Linked DNA regions of Homo sapiens: regions 1, 3 and 4 are each linked to region 2. The links come from fine-mapping of genetic effects on gene expression. A gene starts in region 2. Each other region holds a variant in brackets. All regions are shown on one strand. Distances are from middle to middle.

Region 1 (8,104 bases), 43 kb after region 2:
GAGAGGGAGGAAGAGTGTGAAGTGGGGGAGGTGCTACACTTCTCAACAACCAGATCTCGTGAGAACTCGCTATCATGAGAAGAGCAAAGGGGAAGTCCACTCCTATGATCCAATCACCTCCAACACTAGGGATTACAATTTGACATGAGATTTGGGTGGACACAAATCCAAACCATATCAGTAGCATACAAGTTTATTGAAGGAAAACTAGATAATACAGAAAAATCTAAAGAAAAGTCCTTCATGATCTCACCCCAAGAGATAATTACTATTAATATTTTGTCTCTCCATCACTTGATTTCCTATGCACATAAATAAAATGATACAGACAGATGTAGACAAATGCACACATATGTACTTTTTTAAAGAAACAAACTGAAACCCCACTTCTTCCCTCGAGCTATGGGAAGCACCCTCGCTAAGGCAAAGCATACACACTCAGATGCCCAGAGTCCAAACAAGTAGCTGACCCCTTTTGCTGAGACCTTGAAGAGGGCCACCTCAGGCACATCAAGAGAGATCAAACCACCTCAATACAAGGGCAAGCTTCTTTAGCCCATTGTGGCCAGGGCAGAATTCAGGTCCTACTGCCAGATTTACTGGTTTCCCAAGTGCTATAAATCCAGTTTAAGTGAAAGGTGTCTGAGGGGGTGCATTTGGACCCACCGGGGCCTGGGGCATAATTCGAAAAAGCATGTGCATTCTTATGATTTCATTTCATATTTGGAAAACTAAAGAGGAAATATTTTTCAAGACACTATAGAATGGTAACATTTAACAAAATCTTGGCTCAAAGTGGTCTGTTTAAAAAGTCTAAAACACTTATTTTCCTATTATGGTAAACAAAAATGTTTGTATCACTAAAAAACACCTTCACAATATTTTAATGACTCTTTCCTGATGTTGTTGTTATTTAGCATAGCAGTCTCTTCTAGACCTTAGTCGTTCCTTCATTCATCCAATAAACTATTAATAGTGAAGGCTATTTGCCAAGCCCTGAGAACATGGTGGTGACCAGACTGACACAGACCCTGCCCTCAAGAGACTCATATTCCAGCTAGGGAGGCAGAAAATAAACAGGTAATCTACTAAAGTACGAATACCTGTATTACCCAAATGATAAACACTATTTTTGCTTTTTTACCTATGTCATATGAAGAACATTTTTTCAAATCACTAAAAAGTACTTTAAAATATTTTCATAACTGTAACTTTTAAAGAACTTTCCCTTCGGCCGGGCGTGCTGACTCACGCCTATAATCCCAGCACTTTGGGAGGCCAAGGTGGGCAGATCACTTGAGGTCAGGAGTTCAGGACCAGCCTGGCCAACATGGCAAAGCTCCGTCTCTACTAAAAATACAAAAATTAAGCCGGGAGTGGTGGCAGGCACCTGTAATCCCAGCTACTCGGGAGGCTGAGGCAGGAGAATCACTTGAACCCAGGAGGCAGAGGTTGCAGTGAGCCGAGATCGCGCCATTGCACTCCAGCCTGGGTGACAAGAGCGGAACTCTATCTCAAAAAAAAAAAATTTCTTTTCCCTTCATTTAGTTTTATCAACTGACTCAATCTCCCGTAGACTTTTTTCTGTCAATGCTTAAACACCTATCCAGGGCCAGGCACTGTGCTCTGTGCTGTGAACACAGCAGTGAGGACAGACCCAGGTCCTCCCTTCTTTCAGAGGCAGCATGTGTTGAAGAGCCCAGACTCTAGAGCCAGACAGCCTGGGTTCAACTCATGGGTTCAAGTCGGGGCTTTGCCACTTAGTAGCCATGTGCCCTTGGTCATGTTCCCCAACCCCTCTGTGCCTCAGTTTCCCTGTGAGCTCAATAGCAGGCAGTAACCGTACATGCCTCACAGAGTGGTTGTGTAAATTAAATGAGGTAGCGCGCGAAAGCTTAGAAGTGCCCGTTGCGTAAGGCCACGAGTACAGGTTTGCTCTTTTTATTGGAGCTTATGTTCTAGTTGGGGAGACGGACAATAAACGATTTTTAGATGCCCTTTTAATGATCAAAGTATGGAAACCTCGGAAAGAGGGAGAGAAGGGGAAAGGGTGGAGAGAAAAGGAGGGATGGAAGAAGAGAAAGGAGGAGGCAGGGGAAAAAGGGCCTTATCTGCCGCTCCCAAAGGTAAGAGCATGTCAAGGAAACCGAGGATGGTGCTTAATGCAATTCTGTGCTCCTGTGACTCACTAAATAACACAGATGGACAAAAGGAGAGTTCGAAGCCGGGGTGGGGTGGGGGCTGCTCGAGGCCCGGGTCGGTCGTGGAGGCCTGCAGGAGGCAGCGGGCGAGGAGGGGCTCGCGACCAGCCTGACGCGCGGCCTCTCCCCCTCCATGTCCCTCCCTTTGTCCGCACAGAGAGCGCCTTCGCTGACACGCTGACGCCCGCGCGCCTCAGCCAGGCCCGCTTCAGCGCCTGCCTGCCGCCCAGCAGCCACGACGCGGCCAACTTCGACAACAACGAGCTCGAGAACAACCAGGTGGTGGCCAAGCTGGGCCACCTGGCGCTGGGCCGCGCCCCGGGCCCACCGCCAGCCGACGCCGCGGCCGCCGCCATTCCGTGCGGGCCCCGTGAGCGCCCGCGGCCCGCGTCGTCGCCGGCGCTACTGGAGGCCGACCTGCGCTTCCACGCAACACGCGGGCCCGACGTGAGCCTGTCGGCCGACCGCAAAGTGGCCTGCGCACCGCGGCCCGACGGCGGCCGCACGCTGGTCTTCTCCGAGCGCCCGCTGCGGCCCGGCGAGAGCCTCTTCGTGGAGGTGGGCCGTCCGGGGCTGGCGGCGCCCGGCGCGCTGGCCTTCGGCATCACGTCGTGCGACCCGGGCGTGCTACGGCCCAACGAGCTGCCCGCCGACCCAGACGCGCTGCTCGACCGCAAAGAGTACTGGGTGGTGGCGCGCGCCGGGCCCGTGCCGAGCGGCGGCGACGCGCTCAGCTTCACGCTGCGGCCCGGCGGCGACGTGCTCCTGGGCATCAACGGGCGTCCGCGCGGCCGCCTGCTGTGCGTCGACACCACGCAGGCGCTCTGGGCCTTCTTCGCCGTGCGCGGCGGCGTCGCGGGCCAGCTGCGTCTCCTCGGTGAGTCCCCGGCCCCGCGTGCGCGAGGCCCCGCCCCTCCCCCGTCCCGTGCCGTCTCACCCCGCTGCGCTCTTCCCCGGCCCCGCCCCTCTCGCTAGGCGCTGCACCGCCCGAGGCCAGCCCGCGGTTCCCAACTTTAAGCGCCCGGGCACGATCCACCCCGTCCAAAATTGCCGGACTCCACCCCAGAGTTCCGGATTCAGTGGGTGCACGGTGCGCCCCGAGAACGTGCATTTCCGACAAGTGCCCGGAGATGCTGACGTTGCGGCTCTCTGGACCACATTTTGTAAACCACCGACCTAGAT[A/C]GGTAACCGGCTTATCTCCGAGCTTGGCAGGCTATATCCCCTCGGTAAATGGTCGGTGCGATTTTTAGTTCCGTTGTTACGATTTGTTACATTAGGGTGTTTTTAACATGTAATGCACAGTAAGTGTAGGGAAAAAATAAATTCGACTGCACATGAAAGAGGAAATAAGAATAGTATCGTCCACAGAAAGTGGAATGGAGGCCTGAACCATCCTATTTTGAGATAATTTTTGCCTTCATTCATGCCACAAATAGGCAGGAGCAGCCACCAGCTGTGGGCCGGGCCCTGGGCACCAGGATAGGGCCAGCAGAGGACAGGACACACTCCATGCCGGTTAGGAGCTCACAGACACCCTAAAGGAGAGTTGCACGGTGTGACATTTGCTACAGCCGGGGGCTCCTCTCCCAGCTTGGTGGAGTGAAGGAGATGTTCAGAGAAGGCTTCCCAGAGAGCCTGGCTCCAACTTCATGGCTCAAAAAGTAGAGTCCAAGCAATAAGAAGCAGTCAACAGCTCATATGTTCCCTCATTGAATTTTATCCTCCCTTTGACTCTATTGAAATCAGTATCATTATCCCCACCTACAGATAAGATAATGAGCACAGAGAGATTAAATGACTATCCCAGGGTCACATCGCTGGTCAGCTTTGAAGATGCTGGACAAATCACAGATTCTCCTGAGCCTGTTTCCTTCTGTAGAAAGAGAGTGATACCTGCTTCATGGGGTTGTCATGAGGATGAAATCATGTGCATATAATGCCTTGAGCGGGGCCTGACACTGGTTTAATCAGTGGTAACAGTAACAACAGCAGCTGTTGCTGTCTTCATGAGGGCAGAGGAGGAGCCGGGTGGCAGTGTGGTTATTTGGTCAGAGTGTTTTTTGGGGAGGGGGAAGTTGTGTTGTTTTGTGTTTTTGAGGAACCATCAGACATAGTCATCATTTCAGCCCGAGACGAAGTGCCCATTATCTGTCCATTCATCCTCAGGTAGGGCAAGGGAAGGGGCATCTTTTCATCCTAAGAAACAAGCTGTTATTGTCTGAACCAACAGCAAGCTTGGGGAAGAAAACTCATCCATGTTGAGCACTAGTAGTCAGGGATCTTCTCGCAAGGGGCAAAACCCCACTCAAAGTGCCCTAAGCAAAAAAGGAAATGTCTGGGAGTATATTGGGTGAGTTCAGGAATAGCTGGATCTAGGTACTGGAAGGATATCAGCAGGATCCTACCTCTCTTTCCAACTCAAAGCTCTGCTTGCCTCTGTGTTGGCATCACTCTCAGGCAGGCCTTTGCCACGGGTTGGCTCTTCCAGCTCCAGGCTTCCTTCCCAATGAATGGAATGAGTTCCTTCTTTCCTAGTAGTTCCAGTAAAAGTTGCAGAATTGGGTCTCGGGCCTTACGGGGGTTATGTGCCCTTTCCTGAACCACCACTATTGAGACCAGAGAGTGGAAGTTCCTGTTGGCCTGGCCCTTATCCTATGAGGGAGGGCACATTAGTATCCCAAAAGAACATCCCAGGGCTGTTTCTGAAAGAGAAGAGAATAGAGGCCTGGTAGACAAAGAACAGAGGCACCACACTGGGATGCACTCTTCACTCCTCAGCAGAACCCTGGGAGATACCTCTGGTCCTCTCGTTAGACGGGAAAGCTAAGGTGCAAAGCAGTGAAGAACCATGGACTAGCAGGGCAGGTCCAACCTTCCACTGCCCCTGATGGAATCTCTTTGGGCCTCAGGTACCCTGCAGTCCAGCCCTGCGACCACGACTCCATCAGGGTCCCTCAGCGGCTCCCAGGACGATAGTGATTCAGATATGACCTTCAGTGTCAACCAGTCCTCCTCGGCATCTGAGTCATCCCTGGGTAAGGAAATGCAAACCCTGGCAGGGGCAGGGGCTGGCGGCTGGCCTGGCTCCTCCGGCTGTGCCAGTGGCCTTCCAGGGACTGAGCAGGGTGGCCGCCTTTCCCCCGCATCCTCTCCTTCCCTCAGCTGTATGCTCAGCTGGAGGGAGGAGAAGTGTCTAGATAGGGCATTCCAAAGGGTGACGATGGTGGCATTTTATCTTGGTGTTTGGGAGTAGAAGAGTAGAGAAAGGTGCAAAACCTGCAAGGTAAACTCAAATTAGTATCTCCCAAAAGTATTCTCCCACCGGTCCCAGCAAGAAGCCCTGCATTCTCGGGGTTGCCCCAACAGAGCCCACCTGAGAGAGACATTGTTAACATATGTCCTCTTCTCCCTTTCGGCAGTGACGGCCCCCAGCTCCCCGCTGAGCCCCCCGGTGTCCCCCGTGTTCTCCCCACCGGAGCCGGCAGGCATCAAGAATGGCGAGTGCACGGTGTGCTTCGATGGCGAGGTGGACACGGTCATCTACACGTGTGGACACATGTGCCTGTGCCACAGCTGCGGCCTGCGGCTCAAGCGACAGGCCCGGGCCTGCTGCCCCATCTGCCGGCGGCCCATCAAGGACGTCATTAAGATCTACAGGCCATAGCCTAGCCTGCCCACGGGCCTTGGCCGGTGCAAGGTCACCTTTCTGAAGGCCCCCTGGGCTGGGCAACCACATGGCTGCCAGGGAGTCCACGGGCAGCGGCCATCTCTCCAGTGGTGGGCAAGGTGTGACAGTCGTGGAGCGAGGCCCACAGGGCCTCAGCCCAGGCAGGGGTTGCTTCTGGCTCCAAAGTGCTTTGCCCCCAAAAGGCCGTCCCAAGAGCAAGCTCAGGAACTGCCTGGCAGATCACCCTGTCCCTTGGTGACCTTTCAACTGGGAAACAGCGTCCTCTGTCTGTGCAATGCTTCTTGCTGGGGTTGGGTTGAGTGTGAGAGAAGGGGAGGGGAGGGAGGGAGAACAGAGAGAATGTGTGTGTGAGAGAGAGAGAGAGAGAATGAACGTGTAGCGATTTTACCAGGGGTCCCGGCTCCGGGAGGAGACGTGCAATCCGGAGCCCCGACATTGGCATGACTAGAAGTTGTTCACTTTCTGGGGATGGGACATAAGCTGGTTTTGAATGTATGAAGCTGACCCTCACAGAACTCCCTGGGGTGGTGTAGAAAAGAGATGCTCAGATTTTCTAAGGGGAGGCAAAAATAACTCATTGTTTACAGCTCCAAAGCATGAACTCCTTGAGGGGAAGGTGGGTGAAGAACAATTCACTTCTTCATTTCTTACTGGGTCTTAGAGCTGGGTGTGATGGGCACCGAGGCCAACCCCTCTGGATTGTGTCATCTTTTCACCCCTTCACCCCCAGACTGTCTAATAATACACACATCATACCTTGTCTCCGTCTCTGGAGGCAAGTCTCTGTAATGCCCTTCCCTATCTCCAAGGAGAAGACCAGCAGTAAGTTCTGTTTTTCTGTGGGAGAGAAAGAATCCTAGAGGCAGGTGACCCACCTGGAGCTGGAAAGCCCACTCCACGATGCAGACAGCTCTCTACCTTCCTGTGGTGGCCCCTGGGCCTGGCATTCCCAGGGGACCTGCTGGCAGGAGGAGGAACGAGGGCTTTATAACTTTGGTTATAACTTTTGGTCTTTGTTCTGATTCTCAGTGTATCTTCCTCCGCTGGTTACTAAAGTGTTCACTGATAAGTATGTTAACTAATGATCGAGACAGTAACGAAAAATGCTGGCACTGGGATTCTCTCCCTTCCCAGACCTACCTGCTGGTATTTCCTGGGACCTTGACCCTGCCCCACCCCCTCAGCCGTGCCCATCTCTGCAGACTCCCAGATCACATCTGGGCTGATGGGCTGGCCCAGGCCTGTCCCTCCCTTCTTGCCCCCAGTTCTGGGCTCCACCTCTGCCCTCTTCTGTGCTGTCCCATTAGGGAAGTCCCTTGGCCTGTCTATTTTTCAGTTCCCAATTAGAAGTCTAGAACCTGACAACTCCAGGAGTTCTTGGGAGGACCAGTACAACGTTCTAAAAAGCCTGAGACGCCTTACAAAAAGCAAGTATCATTTGGAGTACAATTCCTAATCTGTTCATGTCCTGCTGAAGGAGGGAAGGAGGGAGAGGAAGGCAGGGGAGTTGATGCATTCATATAACAAACACTGCTGGGTGTCTGGGTGCCCAGAGCAAAGCTGGGCCAGGCCTTCACCAGATCAAGCCCCACAGACCAGCTGGTGCCCATGCGCTGCTGGTGGTTTGGGGCCTCCTGTTCCTCCTCTAGCTGGGAGTAATCACAGTTGTCTGACCTGATTCCAACTTAAGGTCCCCACTCTCTTGCCCCATCAAGAATCCCTGATTATTTACTTTTCCCTAGAAAATCTGGGGAAATTCCCACATTTTAATTTTGCAGCAGAATCTTTTGAGCAGCTTTTGGAACCACAGTGTTTGCCAAGATAAGAGTTTGAGAATCCAGCAGCCCTGGGTGCCTGGCTGAATTTGGTTTCCTGCATGTGCTGGGTGTGGGCGGGGCCACGCACAGGCCCTGCATGGGAGGACTCCTCACCCCAGGCCTGTGGTGCTGCAGACAACCGTCTCCTGTCTACACTGCGACCCAGCCACAAGCTGTGGGGTCTCAGTGGCCTGGGGGAAAGCAGCTCCACTCTCCTGCCCTTCCTGGCTGCCCCTTTGGGTTCCAGCCGGGGTCACGTCCAGCCTCCACTGGGAAACCAGTGACTGAGGCCTGGACCCAGAGGTGGACCAGGCATCTCCTGGCCACCTGTGACCTGGGAAGAAGCGAGTCAGTGGCCCGTTCAACCTGCTCTGCAGCTGCTATAAATAGCCTCCCTG
Region 2 (8,104 bases):
TTACCTGTCTGAGGCTTGGTGTCCTCGTTTGGAAAATGGGGATGCTAGAACCTATCTCCTTGGATGTGGTATGACTATAATATTTGGAGAAGGAAGAGATTCACATTCCATCCCTGTGGTTATAAAGTCTCCTGTGCGGCAGGTGCTGAGTCCAACAGTCCCTTCCCTTCCCTTGTTGCTGTTAGACATAGTGCCTGGATCCCAGGCCCCTAATACATGCAGACAGCATTTCCACAGTGTCCCGGCCAGCCCTGCTTGGGAGCTAGTGGGAAGAGGTGAGATTGGGAGAGGCAACAAAAATGGGAGGCCCACATCCCAGGAGATCAGCTTGGTACACAAGCTGCAAAGACAGGGGAGCACCTCTGCAGTCCTCTCAGGGTCAGTAGAGGCAGGACCAATCAGACTCATAAACCTCAAACCATAAATCACCCCCATGGCTTCATGTGGGTTGTAGGGGCTCAGTGGATGATTGTACTGGAAGGTATACTTTAGAAGACATGTGACTCAGGAAGCCCCTCCTCAACTGCCTGGCAGGAAATATATGGTTTCTATTTGCACACCTCCTGGGACAGGGATCTCCCTCTCTCCCAAAGCCACCCTTCCACCTTCGTGGACTAGCTTTGTCCTCCTTCTCTAGTGTGGTGCCCAGAGCCAAAGCGACTTCTGGAATGGTCTAACCAACATGCACTGGAGCAGCAAGCCCCTCCTTTGTCCTAAAGACTATATTTCTGTTAATGCATCCCTATTTTGCTCATTTGCTTATTTTTCCCTGCACATATTACTATTCATCACACCAGGGTCTAGGGCTACTAATGGCAAAAACTCATTCTCTCACAGCTCTTTCTCTCCTCTCCCTTCTTATTACCTTTCTCCATTCCTTCTTTCTTCCCTCTCTCCTTCTTTTCTGTTTTTCTCTCAGCTCAGGGCAATGCATCTCTGCAGTCAATTTATGCAAATGTGTATTGAGCACCTGTGTCTGCCAGCCCTGTTCTGGGCACTGGGGTTTCCTAGATGATTACAGCCTTCTTCCTGCCTGCAGGAGCATCCTGTCTGGCAGTGGAGAGGACGCAAAGGTAACAGCTACAACACCTGTCTTGAGGGTGTAATTGAGGGGACAGCACAAAGTGCAGAGGGATCTCAGATGGGTGAGCAACTGCTGTATGTGCCCAAATATAAGGTAATCCAAGTAAAGATTACAGGCAATCCCCATTCTCCCTATGAGAAGATGCACTTTCTTATTGAATAATATAAACTTAATGGGGTGAAGATGAAATAGACATCTACTTGAAATATTTCATTTATTACTTTAGTTATATAAACATATTTGCAATTATTCTCATAGAGAATACTAATATGGAAAGATTGCTTTTGGCAGTTTCAAATTTCAGGAAACAATTTGATTCTAATTCTTTTCTGTGTGGCTTTGACACTAGTGTCACCATCGTGTGTGTTGGGGGCAGCTTTTTACTAGAGCAGGTCCTACTCTCAGAGATCCAGAGGCTAACACACAGCCCTTTCGAATCCACATGTCAGGCAACTGCTGGGCACAGTGTCTCCACCGCAGGTCCAATCCGCATCACATTTTGACAGTAGGGATTCATTTGCTGCAGGTGAGTATTTGTGATCTGCACAACATGGCCACTTACTGAGGTACTCTGAAAGTGGCCTTTAAAAGGCCTGTTCACAACCTCTCACCCTTGCCGTCACAAAGTCATATTTGTTTGCATTGCCTTATCTGAGGAAAATTCCCTCAATTCCCTTTATAATATTGCTGACCTCCATATGCAACCCAATGTCACATAGATTAAAGGAGGATCAGCCAGGTGAGGTGGCTTAGGCCTGTAATCCCAGCACTTTGGGAGGCTGAGGTGGGGGAACCGCTTGAGGTCAGAAGTTTGAGACCAGCCTGGCCAACATGATGAAATCCCATCTCTACTAAAAATACAAAAATTAGCGGGGCGTGGTAGTGGGTGCCTGTAATCCCAGCTACTCAAGAGGCTGAGGCAGGAGAATTGCTTGAACTTGGTAGGCAGAGGTTGCAGTGAGCCAAGATTGTGCCATTCCACTCCAGCCTGGGTGACAGAGTGAGACTCTGTCTCAAAAAAAAAAAGAAAAAAAAAAAGGATCACGCTAACGGACCTTTCTCAAACAGAACTTTGGGGTTAAAAATTAAGTCACTGGGCGAGCACCTGTAATATGAGAAATTAGTAACTCAAATGCAAGGCAATCTTATGTTCAGACATATGACGTCAGGGGGGAGTGGGGAATCAAGGTTTCCCGGAAGTGGAAGCTTGGAGCTGGCCTTAAAGACCCTAGAACCCTCTGGGATGGGTCATGTACTGTAAGCAGAAGGCACCGGAGATGCAGAAGGCTGTCTCCTGAATACCCCGCTTTTATTCGCATAGCTTCAGGCTAGCTTTGCCCTGTACCATTGGAAGATCTTGGGCACCTCTCTTCCACTCTCAGAGCCTCAATTTCCCTATCTGTGAAATGGAAGTAATAATACATATTTCATAAAGTCTCAAGGGATACAAGAGCATGAAAAATAGAATTGAAAAAAACAGCTCATTTGGAATCGGGTCTTCTTGGGGAAGTCATTGCACTTCCTGGGCCTCAGCGTTCCAGCCTGTGAAATGGAGCTCGAGAAGGGCACAGCTGCACTTCCCACTGAGTGTGGTCCAGGTGCCTGAATGAGGAATGCCTGTTACTGCCTCTGCCAGGAACACTCTACCTATCTCTTCTCATGGCCGACGCCTTCTAGTCCATCAGATGGAGCTTATGTGCCCCCACCCCAGATTCTCCCTATGCCCCCAAACAATGTCATCTCCTCACTCTACTGGGATCTGTTTTATTTTCTTCCTGGCTTTGATTATTATATAATGTGATCGTAATTGCTTGTTATTTCTATCTTCAGCATGCCATCTCCAGGGCAGTGGGGACCTTGTCTGTATCTACCCGGCCCAGCACAGTGCCTGGTGCATAGACTGTGCTCAATAAATATTTTAGTGAATGAGCGAATAAATTAATGAATGTGGGTTCCCTCTTCCCAATCTTTGGACACTGGGTTTCTTCTATTCCTCGGTACCTGGCCTAGGGGATAGAAAAGACTCCACCCAAACCCGGGAACCCTGGGTGTACTGTCTCCAAGCCCTTTACATGGTCCCAGGGGCCCGTCTGCCTCTGTGTAAGTTCCCCCGGGGCCGAAGCACTCTCCAAAGAGGTCTGCCGGGGCTAGGACTCGGCCGGCTGGGGCCCCGCGCCTGGAAGAGGGCCTGGCACACAGTGGGCCTTCTCAAAGTGTTAGAACAAATGGGTGACAGGCCAGCAGACTGCCGATCCTGGCACCCGAGGGCACCCAGCTGCCCTGCGCGCCTTCCCGGCCCGGGCGCGGGAGCGGCGAGGGCGGGAGGCTTGGCTGTGCTTCTCCCGCCGCCTGGTGCAAACTTTCAAAAGATGCGGCGGCCGCGGCCCCGCCCCTGCACTGTTGGAGGCGGTGGGAGGCGGGGGCGGAGCCGGCGGGCCCGGGCCGGTGGCTCCGCCTCCTCCTCCCGCAGGCGCCGCCGCCGCCTCCCTCCCGGCTCCCGCCCCAGCTGCCGCCCGCCGGCTCGCCCGTGCAGCTGCGATGCCCCGGAGCGTCGACCCCGGTCCTGGTCCCTGGCCCGCCGCGTAATTAGCCTCCGCGCGCCCAGAGCGCGCCGCCGCCAACGCCGCGCCCGACGCAGCGATGGGCAACACGGTGCACCGGACCCTGCCAGGTACGCCGGGGAGCCCTGCCCGGGAGGCGGGCGCCGGGCTTCTCTCCTCCGGGGGACCCGCTGGGTGACTCTGGAGAGCTACCCCACGGCCCTTGGAGCCCTCGGCTCGCAGCGGGCTGGAGTCTCCGGTACCTCCCGGACCTCAGCTCGGCGCGCGCCCCGCGGCTGGGCTTTGCGCCCCGGGAGGGCGGGTACCGCGTCCTGGTTACCTTGGGGACCCCAGTCCTCATTCTCCCGGCTTTGGCCAGATGCGCAAAAAGGGCCGCTGGGGCGATGCCGCGCGCCCCCTCGCCTTTGTTCCAGCCCGAGGGCGCTGATGAGCAAACTCAAGGCGACCTGGGTGGGGGTGACTGGAGCCGGGCTCGCCAGGGCTTCCGACGGTCAGAAGCCACCCGTGGTGCCAAGACTGCAGCTGCCGAGAGTGAGGGGTGCTCTCAGGGGCACCCCAGTTTCCAGCCTCCCAGCGCCCCCGCGGCACATGCTGCCGTGCTTTGGCCACGTTCCCACGCGCACCCCGGTTGCGCCCCCCTCTGGTGTCCGCTCCACTGGGGACTCCTTCGCCCCCTCGGAGTCGCTGCTGCAGATCGCATCGCCCCCTAGTTAAAATCGCCCCAGAATTTCTGGGACCGGAGTGAGGGGATCCGGAGCAGGTTAACGGGGTAGGAGGAGGCCTTACTGGAAAATACATGGTAATTGTGGGAACAGATCAGCGGTCCCGCGCCCGCGCGTGCCCGTGGAGGTTCAGTGCCCAGCACTTTGCATACCCCAGCTCGGTATGCAAAGAAGCTTCGCGATAAAGATGTGTATCCCAGTTTTACAAATAAAAAAATTGAGTGTCAGAAGAGGTGAAATGACTCACCCAAGGTCACACAGCTAGTAGTGGGAGAATCTGGAGTGGGACCTGTGTCTCTCTGCCCTCCCTCCCCTCACACGCCCAAGTATTTAGAAGTATTTTGTCTTAAGGCTGGGCCTTTGTAGCATCCTTTGGGCAAAAGGTGAGAGGAGTGTGTGTGTGTCTAAAGCACAAAGGCTCGGCTCAATGGGGAAGCAAGTCAGCTGTGAGGTTAATTTAGTGTGAGGTTCTGGAAGAGGGACATATCACCCCATCTCTGCTATAACACTCCCATATAGCTCTCCCTTCTAGGCATTACATGCTCTTAAAGAATAATTTCCCCTGGAGCGGGTTGAAGTGGACAGTGCTGAGCCCAGGATTCCCAGGGTCAGCTTATGGAAGAGGAGCCAACTCCTACTTTACAAGCCTCTGAGCAACTGCACTCAAACGTTCAAATTCCCAGAGAGCTGTAATCATCAGCAGAGTCACCAGCTAGTCAGTGGCAGAGGTGGGATTAGAACCCAGGTCTGCTTACTGGAGGGTGGCCTCTACCTCCTGTGGACAGGGCTATTGCCAGGTTGGGGGAGAACCCACCCGCGGGTCAGGAGATATCTGGGGATGTTGGCAAATAGGGCAGCAGATATTCTCGCCACATAGACACTGGGATGAGGCACCTCGGCACAGGCCCCTTTCCTTGGTTTCTTAATTTAAAAATGTTTATACTATTCTAGTAAAAAGCCATTCTGCCACCTGTGGGTCAGCCCTGGGGTGCGTAAAGGGACAGACACACGCCAGGCAGGCTAAATATAGCTAGAGATTTATGTATTCTCCATCCCTCTCAACTCTCTCTCTGTGGACTGGGCCACCCTAGTCTGGGAGCCGGCAGTTAAGGTTGGTTACCCACTGCAGTGTCTAAGTATGGGGAATTCAGACTCTTCTCTGGGGATTGAAGCTTGCACTGAGTTTGAGGAAGGGGTCAGAACCGGAATTCCTGAGTCACATCGGGTGGCAGATGCCAAGAATATGAAGGGCCGTTAATTGTTTTCCGACCTACCAGTATGAGTTTCTTGCACACCCTGTGCTGTTTTTTGTACCTCTGTGCTTGGCATGTGATGGTCCCCATGCATGGATTGTCCTTTCTTGTCTAGTCTGCCTTTCAAAATCCAGTTGTCGTTACCTCCTCCAGGAAGCTTTCCCTGACCACCCACAGTCTCATCCTTTGCTCTGCTATCTGGATGCCTGAAGTCCTTTCCTGCTCATCGTTGCAATGACTGCATTGTCACTGCCTGTCTCTGTGACTCTTTGCGGTTCCCTGAGGACAGAGCCCTTGTCTTGATCATCTTGTATCCCTGGTTGCCCATCCCAGAGACTGGTGCCTGGCAAGGGCTCAAAAACTGGTGGTGGAGCTCGAATGTTGCCTGAATCTTAGGCTGAAGGAACACTTGGCACAGTCTTGCCCTGTAGAATCCTTGTGCTTTCGTTCTCAGGAAAAGGACACATGCGTGGGGTTCTTTCTGCGGGACTTGAAATAGAGAGCTGGCATTTGCTGAGCACCTGGATTCCATGCCAGGCTTCCTGCATATGTGGCTTCATTTACACGCCAAGCATGCTTCTCCTCAAGGCTTCTGCACTTCCTGATCCCTCTCCCCGGCACATTCTTCTGCCCTCCTCCCCATGGCTCCCACCAGGCTTCCTTGGGGTCTCTGCTTGAACGAGGGGCCTGCTGTTGCCCCAACCCCACTCACTCCTTTGACCCAGCTTTAAGTTTCTCCTTAGCACGTGTCACTATGCGACACGCTGTATGTGTAGTTAGCAGTTTCTTGTCTGTCTCCCCCAGGGAGATTTTGTCTGTTTTATTCACTGCTATACGTTTAGCACCTGGAGCAGTGGCTAGTACAGAGTAAATGTTCAGTAAGTACGTGTTGGATGGGATGAATGGATGAATTTAATTCTTCTAACATCCCTGCAATGTAGGCATTATCATCTCCATATTACAGTTGAGAAGCCGAGGCTCAGAGAGGTAAAGTGGCTTGTCCCAGCTCACACAGTTCACCTAGTTGGCAGAACTGGGATTGCAATTTAGGTTAACTTAGCTCCAAAGTCCTGCATTCTTATTCTGACATGCTGTGGCCTCCCAGCCCGTGATTTAGATAACATTTATTGGGTTCCCCACCATGCACGTGGCATGCTACACTATACAATAAGGAAATGCCAAAGAAAGGGAAGGTTGTTTATGATCGATTGCGGAAGCCTCTTGGCAGCTCTTGCAAAGTGCATCAGCATATTCAGAGAAATGCCCTTTAAACAGAACGTGCAGCACAGGACCTCACATCTACTAAGCTCCTACTGTGTGCTCTACACTCTCTTTCCAGTTGCAACTCAACCCTGCAAAGTAAGGTGCCATTCTCCACCATTTTAAAGAGATTAAGACACTTTGCATACAGTTAGGCAGTGGCAAAGCTGGGCTTAAAAGACTGAGACCTGTCTGACTCCTCATACCATGTAGTCCTTCTCTCTCGAGTCCGTTAGCCTTCATCTGGGTATTTGAAGGGAGAAAAAAAGTGTAAGCAGGTGGGGATAGGGGAGGGCAGCGTTCCAGGATGAGAGTGAGGGGAGGTGGAGGGAGGGACTCATCCCCTTCTCCTAACAGCACATTCCAATCCCTTCCTTCTCGCCTCTTGGGCTCACCTGCAGCTCTGGTTGGAGAATACACTAAATTCAAACAACAGGTTGGGTTTCATCATTAAGTTGGCCCACGCTTGACCGAACCAACAGCTTTTTCGTATTAGCTCAATAACCGGGCATCCTGGAGCTTTGGAGTGAGGAAAGTGTGTTGATCCCGCTCTATATCAAGCCCTTGGTCAAGGGCTTTACCCACAGTATCTATTTGAAATCCTCATAACAACCCTTTAGAGGGACTATATTTATCCCCATTTTACAGGGCAGCAAGTGGAGGCTCAGAGAGGTCAAGGACACAGAGTAAGGGGAGAAGCAGCCTCCCCTAACCTACGTGGACAGTCTGTAAGTGCTGCATCCAGACAAAGAAGCACTCGCTTACCCCAGACAGTCTGACATCCTCCCTTGCAGAGCCCTTTTCTCTTTTTGGCCCAGATAAGGGGCCATGTGGATGCTGAGCCTAGCCGGGACACATCTGCTGCTCCCTGACTTCCCATCTGAGCCATGGGTGGTGTTGCTCCCAGGGCCTGGCAGCCACTGTTTTCCCTGGATCTGGACTTTCTCAGCTCTTGGGAGGACAGCGACCCTTGTCACCCTCCTTCCAGCCATGGCAATACTGCATGGATGGCCCATGGAGTGATATTGCCTCTTCTCTTTCTACCTCTCCTCCCCCTTCCCCAGGCACAACTTCACGTTCACTTGGGCTTTACCTTGCTTGTCTTGTCCCATCTTCCTCCCTTCCACCAGGTCATTAAGAACCACCTCTATCAGTGATTCTGTAGAATCAGAATCGCTTGCTACCCTCAGGAGCTGGCCCTAGTGGAAGGGGCCAACATGCTGT
Region 3 (8,104 bases), 25 kb before region 2:
CAGCTAATGCAGGACTTCTGCTTCCGACCACAATGGAATAACACAGTCTGCACTTACCCTCCCATCTGAAACAACCAAAAGCCAGACAAAATATACAAAAGAATGGTTTTCAAGACACTGGTCATAGGGCAACAAAGAAGAGCAATCCTAGAACATCAGGAAACAAATGAGGCCAAGCTTACTTACTGGCTGGAGAGAGTTTCTAGGCCATAGCATAGAGTACAACGGAGACCCCAACAGTCTCTCTGATTGAAGAGATGGAGCTGAGAGTCCAAGGAGGTTGAAGCTGCTAGAATTCACACAACAGAGTTTTGGACAGAAGACAGCTCATGGAGAGAGAGACCTCCAGGGAAAGTTGGAGGGTCTCCCCTGAGTATTCAGCTGAGCATTGACCAGTGCATGCACGTGAAGAAACTATCTGAGCCTGGGAAAGAGCCACCCAAGTGACTTAGATGGAACAGCGCCTGGTGCTCGCACAGGGCCAGGACCAGCACCTGTTCTCTCCAGCCAGACTGGAAAGCCTCATGATTGACAGAGCATTAGATAGGATACTACTGAAAGTCTTACCTCAGCTGCCGAGAATAGTTGGCCCTGCACTAAACTCTGCTCAGATCCAGCCTATTAAATTTTAAAAGCAAGACTTGAAAGGATTAAACTGTTTCTAAGTAACTTAACTTTGTCCCAGAACACAGGAATACAAAAATATCCAGTTCCCAACAAGGTAAGATTCACAATGTCTGGCATCTAACAGAAAAAAAAAAAAAAAGAAGAAGAAAAGAAAAAAATGACCAGACATGCAAAGAGGCAGGAAAATATAACTATAATGAGGAGAAAAATCAATCAATAAAAGCTGACCCAGAACTGACACAGATATTAGAATTAGCACACAATGACGTTAAAACATTTATTGTAACTGTGTTTCGTATGTTTGAAAAGTTAATTAGAGACATGAAAGATATAAAATAAACTTCTAGACCCCATACTCAATGGTGAAAAGTTGAAAGCTTTTCCTCTAAGATCTGGAACAAGACAAGGATGCCCACTCTCACTTCTTCTATTCAACGTAGTACTGGAAGTTCTAGCTAGAGTAATTAGGCAAGGGAAAGAAAGAAAAGGCATCCAAATCAAAAAGAAAGAAGTAAAACTATCTCTGGTTGCAGATGACAAATCTTGATGGGGGCACAGAGGCTTCACAAAGAAAATCCTAGAGACTCCACTAAAAAATCTATTAGAATAAATGAATTCAGTAAAGTTACAGGATACAAAATCAACATACAAAAATCAGTAGTGTTTCCATATGCTAACAATAAGCTATCTGAAAAAGAAATCAAGAAAACAATCCCATTGACAATAGCTACAAAAAGAAATAAAATACTTAGTAGTAAATCTAACCAAGGAGGTGAAAGCCCTGTACACTGAAAACTATAAAACATTGATGAAAGAAACTGAAAGTTACATGAATAAATGGAAAGATATCTCATGTTCATACATGGGAAGAATTAATATTGTTAAAATGTCCATACTACCCAATGTGATTGACAGATTCAATGCAATCTCTATCAAAATTCCAATTACATTTTTCGCAAATATAGAAAAACAGTTCTAAAATTCATATGGGACCACAAAAGACCCAAAAGAGCCAAAGCAATCTTGAGCAAGAACAAAGCTGGAGGCATCACACTATTTTACTTCAAAATATACTACAAAGCTATATTAATCAAAACAGCATGGTACTGGCATAAAAACAGACACATAGATCAATGGAACAGAATAGAGAGTCCATAAATAAACCTACACTTTTGTGTTTTTTTTTTTGAGATGGAGTCTCACTCTGTCACCCAGACTGGAGTGCAGTAGAGCAATCCCAGCTCACTGCCACCTCTGCCTCCCAGGTTCAAGTGATTCTTGTGCCTCAGCCTCCCAAGTAGCTGGTTACAAATGTGTGCACCACACCTGGCTAATTTTTGTATTTTTAGTAGAGATGGGGTTTCACCATGCTGGCCAGGCTGGTCTCCAAATCCTGACCTCAATTGATCCCCCTGCCTCAGCTTCCCAAAGTGCTGGGATTACCGGCATGAGCCACCATGCCTGGCCCCTAAACCTCCACTTTTACAGACAATTGGTTTTCAACAAAGATGCCAAGAACACACAATGAAGAAAGACCGTTTCTTTAATAAATGATATTGGGAAAACTGGATATCCACATGCAGAAGAATAAAATTAGACCCTCATCTCACGCCATGTACAAAAATCAACTCAAAATGAATTAAATGTAACACCTAAAACTATTAAACTAATAGAAGAAAACATAGGGGGAAAGCTCCACAACATTGGTCTGGGCAGTGATATTTTCAATATAATCTCAAAAGCATAGACAACAGAAACAAAAATAGACGTGGGATTACATCAAACCAAAAAGCTTCTGCACACCAAAGAAAACAATCCACAGACTGAACAGATAACCTACAGGACAGAATGAAGTGAGTATGTTAAGAGATATCTGCACTGCCATATTCATTGCAGCATGATTCAAAATACTCAAGCTATGGAATCAACCTAAGTGTCCATCCATCGATGAATGGATAAAGAAAATGTGGTGTACATACACAATGGAATACTATTTATCATTTTAAAAAAAAGGAAATCCTATCATTTTCGACAACATAGATGGACCTGGAAGACATTATGATAAGTGAAATATGCCAGGCACAGGAGGACAAATACCACATACTCTCACTTATATGTGAAATCTAAAAAGGCCAAACTCATAGAAGCAGAAAATGGTTAGCAGAGGCTGAGGGATGGAGGAAGTGGGGAGATGTGGGTCAAAGGACACAAAATTTCAGTTCAACAGGAAGTATAAGTTCAAGAGAGCTTCTGTATGTCATGTGACTATAGTTAATAACAATATATCGTATGCTTGAAAATAGCTGAGTCTATTTTAAGTGTTTTCAGCACAAAAAATAAGTATGTGAGGTAATTCATATATTAATTAGCTTGATTTAGCCATTCTACAATGTATACATATATGAAAACATCATGTTTTACGTCATAAATCATACAATTGTATTTGTCAATTAAAAATTAAAAAATAAATTTCGTAACCAAAAAAATCCCAAACTTCTAGAAATGAAAACTTCCTGTGTGAGAAAGTACATTGGATGGGATTAATGGTACAAGAAAATATTAGTGAACTTGAAGACATAGCAATAGAAATGATCCAAAAGAGGCCGGGCGTGGTGGCTCACACCTGTAATCCCAGCACTTTGGGGGGTAGGTGGATCACTTGAGGTCAAGAGTTCGAGACCAGCCTGGCCAACATGGTGAAATGCCCATCTCTACTAAAAATACAAAAAATTAGCCAGGCATGGTGGCGGGCGCCTGTAGCATCCGTTACTCGGGAGGCTGAGGCAGGAGAATCGCTTGAACCCGGAAGGTGGAGGTTGCAGTGAGCTGAGATTGAGCCACTGCACTCCAGCCTGGGCAACAGGGCAAGACTCTGTCTCAAAAAAAAAAAAGCAAAAGAAATTATCCAAAACGAAACACAAAGATAATTTTTTTAACAAATGAATGGCACATCAGTGAGCTATGAGACAACTTCAAGCAGCTTAATATATGTGTAATTAGAGGAGTGAAGGACAGAAGAAACATCTGAAGAAAGAATAGCTGACATTGTTTAAACCCAGATCTAATAGTGAACGTTCATAGTTGTTTACTACACACCAGATGCTAATCTAAGCACTTACACATATTAACTCATCCACTTACAATTCTTACAAAAGCCCTGAAATGCTTGATCTATCCCCATTTTAAAATGAAGAAAGTGTTAACCTCTCGCCCGAGGCCTGACAGCTAGTGAGTGAGTGAGCCAGGAATGGAATCTCAGAACTTCAAACCTTGTCTCTGTCGTTTGTGAATGCTTTCCACATTAGCAAGCCACATCTGTCCACCATTTTTAGTGGCTGTGTAGTATTCCATCGCTGGGGTTTATTTAACAAATCCCCTGTGGTTGAAATGTGGTTTCCAGTTTTTCACTATCATGAAGAATGCTGCCCAGGATAGCCTTAGAGCTGAGATGTTGATGCCCAGGTATATTCCTTGCCTCAGTTTCTAATAGTGGAGCAACTGGAGTCAAAAGGGCTCTTACTACCTATTGTCAAATTGTCCATGGAAAGTTTCTACAGCCCCCAGAAGCCCCACCACTGACTTTCTGTGCTGCTTTGGACAAGTGACTTAACTTCCCTGAGCCTCAATGTCTTCATCTATAAAAGGAGAATACTATTCCCTACCTCTTGGGCTGTTAGGAGGATTCAGTGAGATACCGGGGTCAAGTGACTGTCACAGCACGCTGTGTGGCACGCAGTGGGTGCTCCCTTTGTATGACATCAGCGCTGAAGGAGGAGGCGGTCAGTGGAGCTTCCTGCGGAGCTGATTTGCGCTGGGGGCGTGGGAGGAACGCAGAGGGGCGCATTCCAGCCTGAGGCCACCCCCGTGAGTCTCCCTGAGAGACCCAGGGC[T/G]GCTCTGAGCGGCTCCAGCTGGAGCTCTCCCTATCCTGATCCACCCGCTGACTCACAGTCTCACCCAAGCCCTGGAAAAACAGGGCTTCGCTGTTTTCTTTCTGCGCCCCTTTCCCCGATTCTATCAGCTTCTTTCAGGTAGAGGAGGTTTACGCTTCATAGGTATAACACAAAATCCCCCCCTGCACACACCCACACACGCCCGTGTGTCTCCCCACCCCTATTTTATTCCCCTAGGGACCCACACTGGCTATTTTTCCACAGAGACCTCCTAGGGACACAATTAATGCCAGGAGTGCCCCTCACGTTGGGACTGCAGGCCCAGGGGAGCTCGGCTGCCTCCCTGTATCTCCAGCTGCACAAGCTGGCCCTGGGCCCCTGGTCATTCCCGTTGTGCCTTCCTCACAGTTCCACCGATTGGACCCAAACAGAATTTCCTAACTCAGCCAGGCGTGGTGGCTCACGCTTATAATCCCAGCACTTTGGGAGGCCGAGGCAGGAGGAACCTCTGAGGTCAGGAGTTTGAGACCAGCCTGGCCAACATGGTGAAACCCCGTCTCTACTAAAAATACAAAAATTAGCCAGGCGTGGTGGTGGATCCCTATAATCCCAGCTACTCAGGAAGCTGAGGCAGGAGAATTGCTTGAACCTGGGAGGCAGAGGTTGCAGCGAGCCGAGATCGCGCCGCTGCACTCCAGCCTGGGCAACAAGAGCAAAACCCCATTTCAAAAAAAAAAAAAGAATTTTCTAACTCGAACCATCATTTCCCACTAAATCGAACTCAAGAAGAAATGTCTTCCCCCCAAGCCAGGACACCTGGAAGCCTGGAAATGGTGAGTGTTTGGGGACAGCTACCCGAGATCCGGCAGGGGCTGATTGGAAACGGCCAGAACCGGCTGTGGCAGGACCCCAGGCTCCCTGCAGGCGACTTCGGGATTTGGGACCCGAGTTCTGGCGCAGTTCGGCCCTCGAGCTCCTCGGCCTCAAGGTGGGGTTGGGCCAGCAACCGGGACCCGGGGCGTTCTGTCCCGTCCCTGCCTGGCGACTGCGGCCCGGAAGCCTTCTCTGAGCAGCTCCGCGCCCGCAACCTCACAGTCTTCCCAGATTGTGCGGGGGCCACACATGACATAAGGAGAGTCCTGCCTTGGGTGTAGGGTTCGTGTGGGAGGAGCTGCGGTCCGTGGGGTCCCCAGTACGTTTTCTTTCTGTTAAAAATTAAACTGAGGAGCTTCTGGGTTGCTGAACACATGGGCGAGGCTGGGATGGTGGGACGCCCAGAGAGAGCAGGGAAGCGCTGTATCCCCCACTCCACATCTTGCTCTGTCATTCTCAGCATCTGGTGTTCATCTACATCCTTCGTAATGTCCTTTGTAATATATAGGTAAACAAAAAAAATTAAACTGAGGCCCTAAAAAAAAAAAAGAAATGTCTTCCTCCCTTCCCTTCGTTTTCTCCTCTAAGAACAGCTTTTAAAAATATGGTATTAATGTGGTTTTTAAAGCCTGCAAGCTAGTGTGACTAGAGATAAAAATCCTATGAGAAATATGTTCTGACAGACTGAATTACATCTTATTTGCTAAGAAGGGAAGGAACGCTTATTGAACACGTGCTATGCGCCAGGCCTAGGGCCTGCCACTCTGCCTCCAATCACTCCCTTCATCCTCAACAACGCAAAAGTAGGTATGATAATTTCCCAGGTGAGGGATGAGGCCCAGAGAGCCCAAGGGACTTGCCCAGGTCACACAGCAAGTTGTGTCTGGGCCAAGGAATGGCGCCCAGGAGCCCTGACTCAGAAATGGAGTAGGGGTCTCCTCCTCTGGGGGATGCAGGAGGCTAAATGAGTCCTTTCTGGAAACAGCTAGCCCGGTGAGCCAAAGATGGTCTTTCCTCACCTTCACCTCACTCTGCTTAACTCAGCTCTGTGCACACAGTGGGTCCTTCTTACCTAATGACTTCTGGGCTTCGTCCATCTGTTCCTTTGTTCATTTGTTGAGCACCTACTGTGTGCTGGCTCTGTGCTAGGAGCCAAGGACATAGCAGCGGGCAGATGCTGTCTTAGTTGGTTTGGGCTGCCATAACAAAACACCATAGACTGGGTGGCTCACAACAACAGATATTTATTGCTCCCAGTTCTGGAGGCTGGGAGGTCCAAGATCAAGGCGCCAGCAGATTCCGTGTCTGGGGAGGGTCTGCTTTCTGGTTTCAGAGATGGCACCTTCTTGCTGTGTCCTCACACAGTGGAAGGGGTAAGGCCGCTCTCTGGGGTCCCTTTTATAAGGGCGCAAATCCCTCATGGCCTAATCACCTTCCAAAGGTCCCACCTCTTCATACCATCACATTGAGAACTAGGATTCCAACAGAGAGGAATTGCTGGGGGATACCATCATGCAGACCTTAGTAGATGGTTGTGGCCGCTGCCTGCATGAGCTCACAGACTAGGGGAAAAGGCAAGAATCAAATAAGCTCATGATTAAATGCACACTGGGACCCATGAAAACTGTCACTAAGAACAAATGGAGGCAGGACACCATGGTTCATGCCTGTAATCCCAGCACTTTGGGAGGCCGAGGCAGGCAGATCATGAGGTCAGGAGTTCCAGACCAGCCTGGCCAACATGGTGAAACCCCGTCTCTACTAAAAATACAAAAATTAGCCGGGTGTGGTGGCGGGTGTCTGTAATCCCAGCTGCTTGGGAGACTCAGGCGGGAGAATTGCTTGAACCCAAGAGGTGGAGGTTACAGTGAGCTGAGATTCCACCACTGCACTCAAGCCTGGGTGACAGAGCAAGACTACATCTCAAAAAAATAAATAAATAAAAAATTAAACAACAAAAAGAACAAGTGGAGAGGGGTCCATGAAGTTGGAGCAAGTGGGGAGGGAAGGGAAGGGAGGTAAAGGCACTGCTTCCTTGAGGTCTTCAGGGTGCTACCTGGGCAAAGGAGGAGGGATGGGAAAGACCAGGTGCCTGGAGAGACAGAACTGAGAGTGGAGAGATAAAGTCAGAAGACAAACAGAGGTCAGGCCAAGCCAAGATCAGTGGGTCACAGGTGGGAACTGGGGTTTGATCCCAGGATGATAGGGAGTCACTGAAGTGTTTTAAACAGGAGTGTGAGATGATGGGATTTGTGTGGATGGCACTCTAGGTGCTGTGGAGGGGAGAGGTTGTTGTGTGCGATGGGTTAGCATTAAGTTTGGAGGAGCTGCCTGGATCAGATGCTGGGAAGGCAGAAGGCACTGGGACAACAGACACACAGTGCAGCCGCAAGGAATATCAGTCTCCTCCAATATCCCTCTGCTTCCTCTGCACCCCTGCTCTTTAAGAGACTTGTAAGAAATGTTGGTCCCTTTCATTATTCCTACCAGGGACCCTGACATAGTCCCCACCTGTAACCCTTACAGGCCACTTCCCCACATTCCACACATGCTCACCCCCCGCAACAGGCCTGAGAGCCAGGTGGTATTTGATACCAGTTTTACAGAGGTGCGAGCTGAAGGTGGACGCTGAGAAGCAAACTGCCCTAGGTCATTGGCTTCTAAGAAGTGGAGCAAAAATTGAGGCAGGTCCTAGTGGGTAGATTCTTTCAGCC
Region 4 (8,092 bases), 160 kb before region 2:
CCCGGAGTAGCAGAGAGCTTGCAGGAAGAGGCGAGATGTAATTGTGGCTAGCGATAATGGGGTTTTACAAGAATGCTGAATGATTGGAGTGAGGAACTTTTTATCCTTCATAAAACAACTGTGAGATTACATTGGAAACAAATCATTGTGGGGCAAAAAGAAACATCAAGTACATGGTATTTCCTAGAGAATTATGGCAAAATCTTGTTTGATGTGATGATTATAAGAGATCTGAACCAACTCTTAGGCATGCAGTAGCTACTGTAGCTTTCATTTGTTGTCCAACATTAACTGTGTGCTATGTGCCTGGCATGATGGCCATCATAATAATAGATAATACTTAACTAGCACCTGCTGAGCTCTGATTGAAGCTCTGTACATATCTTAGCTTATTTACATTGTCAGGGAGGTGCTATTATTCCTCCCATTTCACAGATGGGGAAACTGAGGCATAAAAGAGTTAAATAATTGCACAAGGCAGGGCCAGGATTAAGGTGAGCTGAGTAAGATATTTGTCTCAGATGCAAAATTAAAAGGGGTGCCCCCCTAAGACTCTAATTAAGATAAAAAATACAGTAAGGCTATATATATATATATATATATATATATATTTTTTTTTTTTTTTTGAGATGAAGTCTTGCTCTGTCACCCAGGCTGGAGTGCAGTGAGAGCTCACTGCAACCTCTGCCTCCCAGGTTCAAGAGATTCTCCTGCCTCAGCCTCCAGAGTAGCTGGGATTACAGACATCTGCTACCATGCCTGGCTAATTTTTGTATTTTTAGTAAAGATGGGGTTTCGTCATGTTGGCCAGGCTGGTCTGGAACTCCTGATCTCAGGTGATCCACCTGCCTCGGCCTCTCAAAGTGCTGGGATTACGGGTATGAGCCACCGTGCCTGGCGCAGAATAATTTTATAATGTGATACCATCTATGCAAAGAAACCTCCAAGAATAAATAGAAGTTTATACCTGCATGGGGAAAGGTCTGGAGGAGGAAGACCAAGCTCTAGGAGGGCTCCAGGAGGGTTAGGAGGTTGGAGGGCAGTGAGAGAGGCCTTCAGCCTTGCATGCAATGTTCAACTTTTAAAAAACAAAGATGAGAGTTGTGTTTACTTGAGTAATTCAAATTTAATGAAAAAATAAATTTGAGAGGATTTCTATGAGCCGAATGGAGTTGTTTCCAAAATATATTTTTAAGTGCAAAAAAGTTCCATTTTTTTTTTGTAAAACCATTACAATTTATAAAAATGGAATGTGGGAAGAGTAAGTCCAGAAATAATGAAAATGATTACCTATGAAAGTAATAAATGGGGAGAAAAGGGTAGAGATGAAAGAGTCACTATCTTTTTACAATTTTTGAGTTTTGAGCCATATAAATGATTTACTGAATACAAAATTAAATAAAAATGATGGGAGGCCACAGGCTCACGCCTGTAATCCCAGCACGTTGAGAGGCTGAGGTGGGTGGATCACGAGGTCAGGAGTTCATGACCAGCCTGGCCAACGTGGTGAAACCTCGTCTCTACTAAAAATACAAAAAATCAGCCAGGCGTGGTGGCACGCGCCTGTAATCCCAGCTACTCAGGAGGCTGAGACAGGAGAATCACTTGAACCCGGGAGGTTGCAGTGAGCCAAGATGGCACCACTGCACTCCAGCCTGGGTGACAGAGCAAGACTCTGTCTCAAAAAAGAGAAAAACCAAATGATGGGAAAAGCAATAGAAACAAACGAACTTGCCTGTCAAATTGATAGCAACCACACTGACAGTGGAAGTAATTCCAGGACTGTGCGTGCACACTCTTAGTGGGCTATATTTTAAGGATGAAATAACCGCCACTAAACCATGAACTTGGTAGAGCAGTTGTCAGTAGTGGCATTGGTGTAGTTATTCGTTTGCACTGTGAAGTGGAGTTAATATATGGATGTTACTGTCAGCCAGAGTTCTCACTGTGGAAGAAGAGAGGTTCAAGTATGGCATAGGGGGCCGGGCATGGTGGCTCACGCCTGTAATCCCAGCACTTTGGGAGGCCCAGATGGGAGGATCATGAGGTTAGGAGATCGAGACCATCCTGGCTAACACGGTGAAACCCCGTCTCTACTAAAAATACAAAAAAATTAGCCGGGCGTAGTGGCGGGCACCTGTAATCCCAGCTACTTGGGAGGCTGAGGCAGGAGAATGGCGTGAACCCAGGAGGCGGAGCTTGCAGTGAGCCGAGATCATGCCACTGCACTCCAGTGTGGGCGACTGAGCAAAACTCTGTCTCAAAAAAAAAAAAAAAAAAAAGTATGGCATAAGGAAAGCGTGGGAGAAACCTGGGGTGTTGAATTTGATTTGGAACAATCATTGTAAGCTAATAATTAAAATTTAACTAAAACAGCAGTGAGGACACCTTTCCCCAGATCTTGGTTTCTAAAGACCATTCCTCACCAACTCCTCAAAGTAATGGACAGGGAACATACAAGGTGAGTCTGGAGCAAAAGGAAGGGCTCAAAGACTGATGTGGACAAACTATTAATAAAAGGACACAGGATCTGTTGGACGAGGCTCCGATGGTCTACTCGGGAACAACTGAAATATTGAAAGAAGAGTGATGGGAATGGCTTATCACATAGTAAATGAAAAACTCCATGAGTTTATGGTGACACTAAAAAAGGCAGAAGGGAGTTCTGTCTTACAGAACAACAGAACTAATGCATTCGAAAGCCATGAAAGGATCAGAAAATCATCATCTTGCAACCCATAATTGGTTCAAAGATCATATCAGTAAATGCTAAAACCAATAGACAGATAGGTTGTTGGAGTATAGAATATTCACATGGTCTCAAAGAATTGTCCCATGCATGAGATCAATCACAATAGGTATAGGGTACAATGGAGTGGCCGGGCGGTCTGGTGGATGCCACCTACACCAAGCATGACAGCCACCAAGGTGCTCTGTTCAGCTCTCCCTTCAAGAGGACCCACTGTGGGAAGCACATTTGATGGACAGTTCAGTGGCCGTAACTTTTAACCCACCAGTGGTCTACTCTGCTGTCACACTTGACACAGCCACAACTGAACACAGTGGGAATACTAGAACCAGGCCATTCCTGCCCTATGTGGGATTCCTCTATCAGCGCCTTGACTTGGGAACTCCCTATCAGCCTGGCCAAGACATTCCCGGAATTCTGCTGCTGTCTGGCGCTCTTCCTCCCCAGTCCTTCCCTCTTGCTCTCCTTTCCTAGGTGTTAAATGTGCACAGCACCCAAACTCTCCCTGCTGCCTTCTGCTCCCTCTCTGTCCTACACAGGTGTTTCCACCAATACATCTCTTTCTCTTGCACATTGAATCCTATCTTGGCATCCACTTCCTGGAGGACCTGAACTGGCACACCACATGATCACACTTAGCATTGCCAGTAATTTCTGTCTGCCGGATCTGCCCCTTACATACACAGGCTCTGGCTTCTGTGTTGTGCTATGGAATAACTGAGTGACCTTGGCCAGAGCAGTAAACCCCTTGGAGCCTCAGTTTTCTTTTCTGTAAAATGGGGCTTCGTGGGGGTGATTGTGAGGATTAAATGAGATAGCATATGAAATGAGCCTGGCACACAGTAGGTGCTCATTAAACCTGCTATGATGTCACCTTGGGGCTATTGTCATTCCTCTAGGATCTTTTATCAGGAGTGGGTTACTTATCTTCCCTGTGTCTCATTTCTAAATCAGGATATGTATTGTACTTACTTTGCAGGGTTATTGTGAGGATTAATGAAAACCAGTGGTTTGGGTAATGCCCTCAGACACTGCATGCGTGGCACACAGTAAGCACTCAGTAAGTGTGGGCTGCTCTTATCATGAGGGCCATGCTATCTGCTGTCTTATCAGCTCAGGCTGCCGTAACAAAATACCATAGACTGCATGACTGGAACAACAGACATTTATTTCTCAAAGTTCTGGAGGCTAGAAATTCAAGTTGGAGGTGCTGGCCAATTCAGATCCTGGTGAGGACTCTCTTCCTGACGTGCAGACAGCCACCTTCTTACTGTGTCCTCACAAGATGGAGAATGAGAGGGAGCTCTCTGGTATCTTTTCTTATAAGGGTGTTAATTCCATCACAAGGGTGTTAATTCCTTGCCCTCATGATGTCGTCTAACCCTCATTACCTTCCAAAGGCCCATCTCCAAGTACCATCACATTGGGTGTTAGGGATTCAACATGAATTTTGGGGGGTCACCATTCAGTCCATAGAAGTGGGACACAGATGATGCTCAATAAATGTTATTTTCATTCTTTTCGTCTCTCCTTCTCCCTCTGGCAAATAAAGCCTGGACCCGGAGTTTGATTGTGGTTGTGCTATGGAATAACTGAGTGACCTTGGCCAGAGCAGTAAACCCCTTGGAGCCTCAGTTTTCTTTTCTGTAAAATGGGGCTTCGTGGGGGTGATTGTGAGGATTAAATGAGATAGCATATGAAATGAGCCTGGCACACAGTAGGTGCTCATTAAACCTGCTATGATGTCACCTTGGGGCTATTGTCATTCCTCTAGGATCTTTTATCAGGAGTCCTACATTCTTGACTCCTGCCAGATGGGGGCACTCACTGCCTTCTTATTCCTCGTGTGCTCAGTGGACGTCCCTGAGAAGCGGGCTGACTCGCCACCAGAGGGCTTTGTCACCGCCCTTCAAACGATCCTCAGGCACACAGACAGACAGACAGACAGAGGGAGTCCTGGATGAATGGCAAACCCTTCAGATTCTAATTTGTTTCTCAATCAGTTGCTTCCTCGTGTGAAATGAGGGGACAGACAGCTGATCTTTCTGAGCTGCCCATGGCTGGGACCACTGCCTCCATTCCCAACACCCTGCTGGGGACCCCGCCTTCCAAAGAACATGCCCCAGGCACACAGGTGAGCTCCCGCCATGCACTCCCCGTGAAAGGGAAGCCGTCTGGAGGCAGTGTGGCACCTGAAGACGCTGGAGCTGCTGCTGTCAGGGACACACGCCCTGCCCATTCATCTGCCTTCTG[C/T]GCCGGGAGCCCCCGCAGATGCGGAAGATGCAGGGAATGATTCAGCCCCAGCCTTAGTAAGTCAATTTCCACTCATTCACAACTTACGATGGTTTCACACAGGGTGCTGGATTGATGCTTCGTGTTACTCAGCAAGGCTTGCTTCTGCGAGAGGGAGGAGCAGTGGTGGTGGGGGGAACCCTTCCTCGGTGAGGCCTACTTGTCCAGCACAGTGCTCAGGGCCCTGCAAGAGTCCCAGCGGGAGAGTGACTTGCTCAAGGTCACACAGCTCAAGGGGCAAACTGGATTTGAACCCAGACTGTGGGGCTCCAGGGAACCATGGTGGGGTGCACCCCTCCCACCACCACCAGTCTTAGATTGGCAGCCTTTTGTGGAGCGTCCATGCTGTGCCCAGGCCTGTGCGGGAAGCCTCTGGAAGACGCAGGGAGAGTGGCCGGCCTTGTGGCAAGATAGGACACATGTATTGCTATTACTGTTTATTACCACCCTCTCTAACTCTGATCCTTAGAGAAAAAGAGGCACTGAAGAAAATGAGTAAAGAGGAGCAGAGTTTCTTTTTTCCTCCCAAGTGAATCATTGAAAGAAGTAAGTTTCCCTTCAATTTACATTTCAGTTTGGGCCTTTAAAAGCAGTTCTTTTTTTAGTTGTTTGACTAAATATATCTCTCAGTGAACATGTGCACCGATTTTTGGTTGTCTTGTAATTTTTTTCCTGATGACTGGTGTTATGGTTAGAGTCTGGGTTCTAGAGTCCTGTTGACCTGGGTATGAATTCGGGCTCCGTTGCCACATGAGCTGTGTGACTTTGGACAAATAACTTAACCTCTCTGAGACTCATATTCTCATCTGAAAAACAGGGAAATTAGAGTATCTTTCTTACATGTTCTTTGAAGAACTTTTTAAATATGCTTTTTTTTTTTTTTTTTAAAGATGAGATCTGGCTATGTTGCCCAGGCTGGAGTACAGCGGCTAATCACAGGCATGATCCTCATACACTGTAGCCTCGCACTCCTGGCTTCAAGTGATTCTCCTGCCTCAGCCTCCCAAGTAGCTGGGACTACAGGTGTGTACCACTGCACCTGGCTAATATACTCTTTATTTTTTTGGTGAGACAGAGTCTCACTCTGTCACTCAGGCTGGAGGGCTGTGGTGTGATCAAGCTCACTGCAGTCTCTGCCTCCCAGGCTCAAGCAATCCTCCGGTCCCAGCCTCCCAAGTAGCTGGGACTGCAGATGCGCACCACCATGCCTGGCTAATTTTATTTTTATTTTTATTTTTTTAGTAGAGACGAGGTCTTGCTATATTGCTCAGGCTGGTCTCAAACTCCTGAACTCAAGCAGTCCTCCCACCTCAGCCTCCCAAAGTGCTGAGATTACAGGCATAAGCCTCCACACCTGGCCTAATATACTTTTTATGATGAAAAATTTCAAAAACAAATAAAAACATAGAGAATAATATAATTTGAAGTCCAATGTACTGATCTTGCAGCTATGTCTTCAACTTCTGGCCACTCTTGTTTCATCAATTTTACTTGTAACTATTATAATATGTATCTCTAAAACAGGGGGCCCCAACCCTGGGGCCATGGACTGGTGTGGGTCTGTGGCCTGTTAGAAACCAGGCCGCATAGCAGGAGGTGAGCAGTGGGTAAGTGAGTGAGGGAAACTTCATCTGTATTTACAGTTGCTCCCCGTCGCTCACATTACCCTTGAACTCTGCCTCCTGTCAGAGCAGTGGCAACATTAGATTTGAATAGGAGCACAAAACCTATTGTGAGCTGCGCATGTGAGGGATCTGGGTTGCGGCTCCTTATAAGAATCTAATGCCTGATGATCTGTCACTGTCTCCCATCACCCCTAGATAGGACCGTCTAGTTGCAGGAAAACAAGCTCAGGGCTCCCACTACTCTACACGATGGTGAGTTGTGTAATTATTTCATTATACATTACAATGTAATAATAATAGAAATAAAGTGCACAATACATGTAATGTGCTTGAATCATCCCAAAACCATCCCCTGCTCTCCCCGCCCTGTCCATGGTTTTGGACCGTGTATTTTGTCTTCCACAAAACCAGTCCCTTGTGCCAAAAAGGTTGGGGATGGCTGCTCCACATGGTAAGGTTTTTCTTTTACAACATAACTGTTGTAATCAGGATTATAATTGTAATCCTGATGATCATTTGTGGAGGACTTACTGTGTGCTGAGCCACGCTTTTATAGCCCTTTGAGGTAACAGTGACTATCTTCATCTGTAGGTGAGAACAAAGAGGCACAGAGAGGTTGAGGATTTTTCCAGGTCACACAGCAGCAAGCAGTGGAGCTGGAGTTTGAAATGAAAGCCTGTCTGACTCCGGAGCCTGTGCCCTTTGTCTGTGTGTGCTATTATCATCAGCATTCTGTGTGGCTTGTCTGTTTCGATTATAAACTGTTCAAGGTTAGGGCCCCACCTTAGCTTTCTGTATTTTCACAATCTCCAGCTGTTCCATGATTGTCAGACTGATCATCATCATCATCATCATCATCATCATTGGTTTGCACGACCAGCAAGTGCTTGTTAAATACCTAGCTGGAGGACTGCACTCAGACCCTGTGCATGTAAAAGTCACAGTCTCTGCCCTCTAAGTTTCTTATATAATCTGCCAGAGATCAGTTTAGACATAACAGCAAGATGGGAAAACTGATGGGTATCTTCCTGCTGATGAGGCTGATTTCTTCTCTGTCTGAGTGGCCTCAGATTCCACATGAAGATGAAGATGTGGGCATGAGCTGAACAGACATTCCTCTGTGTCCACTGTTGTGCCATGAGTAGTACTAGAATCTGGGGATAGTGGAGGAAATACGATGTGGGGCCTTTGAGGCCAGGGAGGGAATTTGGATTTTACTCTTAGTGTGATGGGAAACCAGTGGATGGTTTTAAAGCGTGATGCAATCCCACTTTGCCACACTCTAGCAAGTGAAATCCCTCCTTTCAGCCTCTTGGGTGGTGGGGCAGGTGCGTCCAGCCGGGTCCTGGGTGCTGCCTGGTGTTCACCTCTTGGCAGCCAGCCACGCTGCTGGCCTGGGACAGGTCCACGCATGCAGCACACCCAG

Which allele goes with the higher level. Alleles are on the strand shown, and positions count from the first base shown. SD is a standard deviation of normalised expression in the study named. Not every link is listed here.
With allele T in place of G in region 3, the expression in lung of the gene that starts at base 3,581 in region 2 is lower (small effect, 0.23 SD a copy in GTEx).

The links.
Region 1: its variant is fine-mapped to the expression of NEURL1B in whole blood (TOPMed, PIP above 0.99).
Region 3: its variant is fine-mapped to the expression of NEURL1B in lung (TOPMed, PIP above 0.99).
Region 4: its variant is fine-mapped to the expression of NEURL1B in whole blood (TOPMed, PIP above 0.99).

The regions. Positions count from the first base shown.
Region 1 is chr5:172,681,061-172,689,164 of GRCh38, forward strand. It overlaps NEURL1B (neuralized E3 ubiquitin protein ligase 1B), which reads left to right. Exons shown (of 5, transcript NM_001142651.3): 3 at 2,359-3,078; 4 at 5,111-5,236; 5 at 5,621-8,104. The coding sequence ends at 5,865. It overlaps LOC107986479 (a long non-coding RNA gene), which reads right to left. Exons shown (of 3, transcript XR_001742997.1): 3 at 5,245-5,477. Among named protein-coding and RNA genes, the nearest start is that of MIR5003, 23 kb to the left of the region's middle. RefSeq lists enhancers at 2,117-2,617, 2,618-3,118. The variant A/C (reference allele first, on the strand shown) is at 3,384.
Region 2 is chr5:172,637,683-172,645,786 of GRCh38, forward strand. NEURL1B (neuralized E3 ubiquitin protein ligase 1B) reads left to right here and starts at 3,581. Exons shown (of 5, transcript NM_001142651.3): 1 at 3,581-3,755. The coding sequence starts at 3,725. LOC107986478 (a long non-coding RNA gene) reads left to right here. Exons shown (of 3, transcript XR_001742996.2): 3 at 1-796. RefSeq lists a silencer at 3,343-3,632.
Region 3 is chr5:172,612,477-172,620,580 of GRCh38, forward strand. LOC105377729 (a long non-coding RNA gene) reads right to left here and starts at 4,366. Exons shown (of 3, transcript XR_941229.2): 1 at 4,290-4,366. LOC107986478 (a long non-coding RNA gene) reads left to right here and starts at 5,196. Exons shown (of 3, transcript XR_001742996.2): 1 at 5,196-5,350. RefSeq lists an enhancer at 4,145-5,061. The variant T/G (reference allele first, on the strand shown) is at 4,518.
Region 4 is chr5:172,474,547-172,482,638 of GRCh38, forward strand. LOC105377727 (a long non-coding RNA gene) reads left to right here and starts at 4,505. Exons shown (of 2, transcript XR_941225.3): 1 at 4,505-5,058. RefSeq lists enhancers at 4,537-5,158, 5,159-5,778. The variant C/T (reference allele first, on the strand shown) is at 5,003.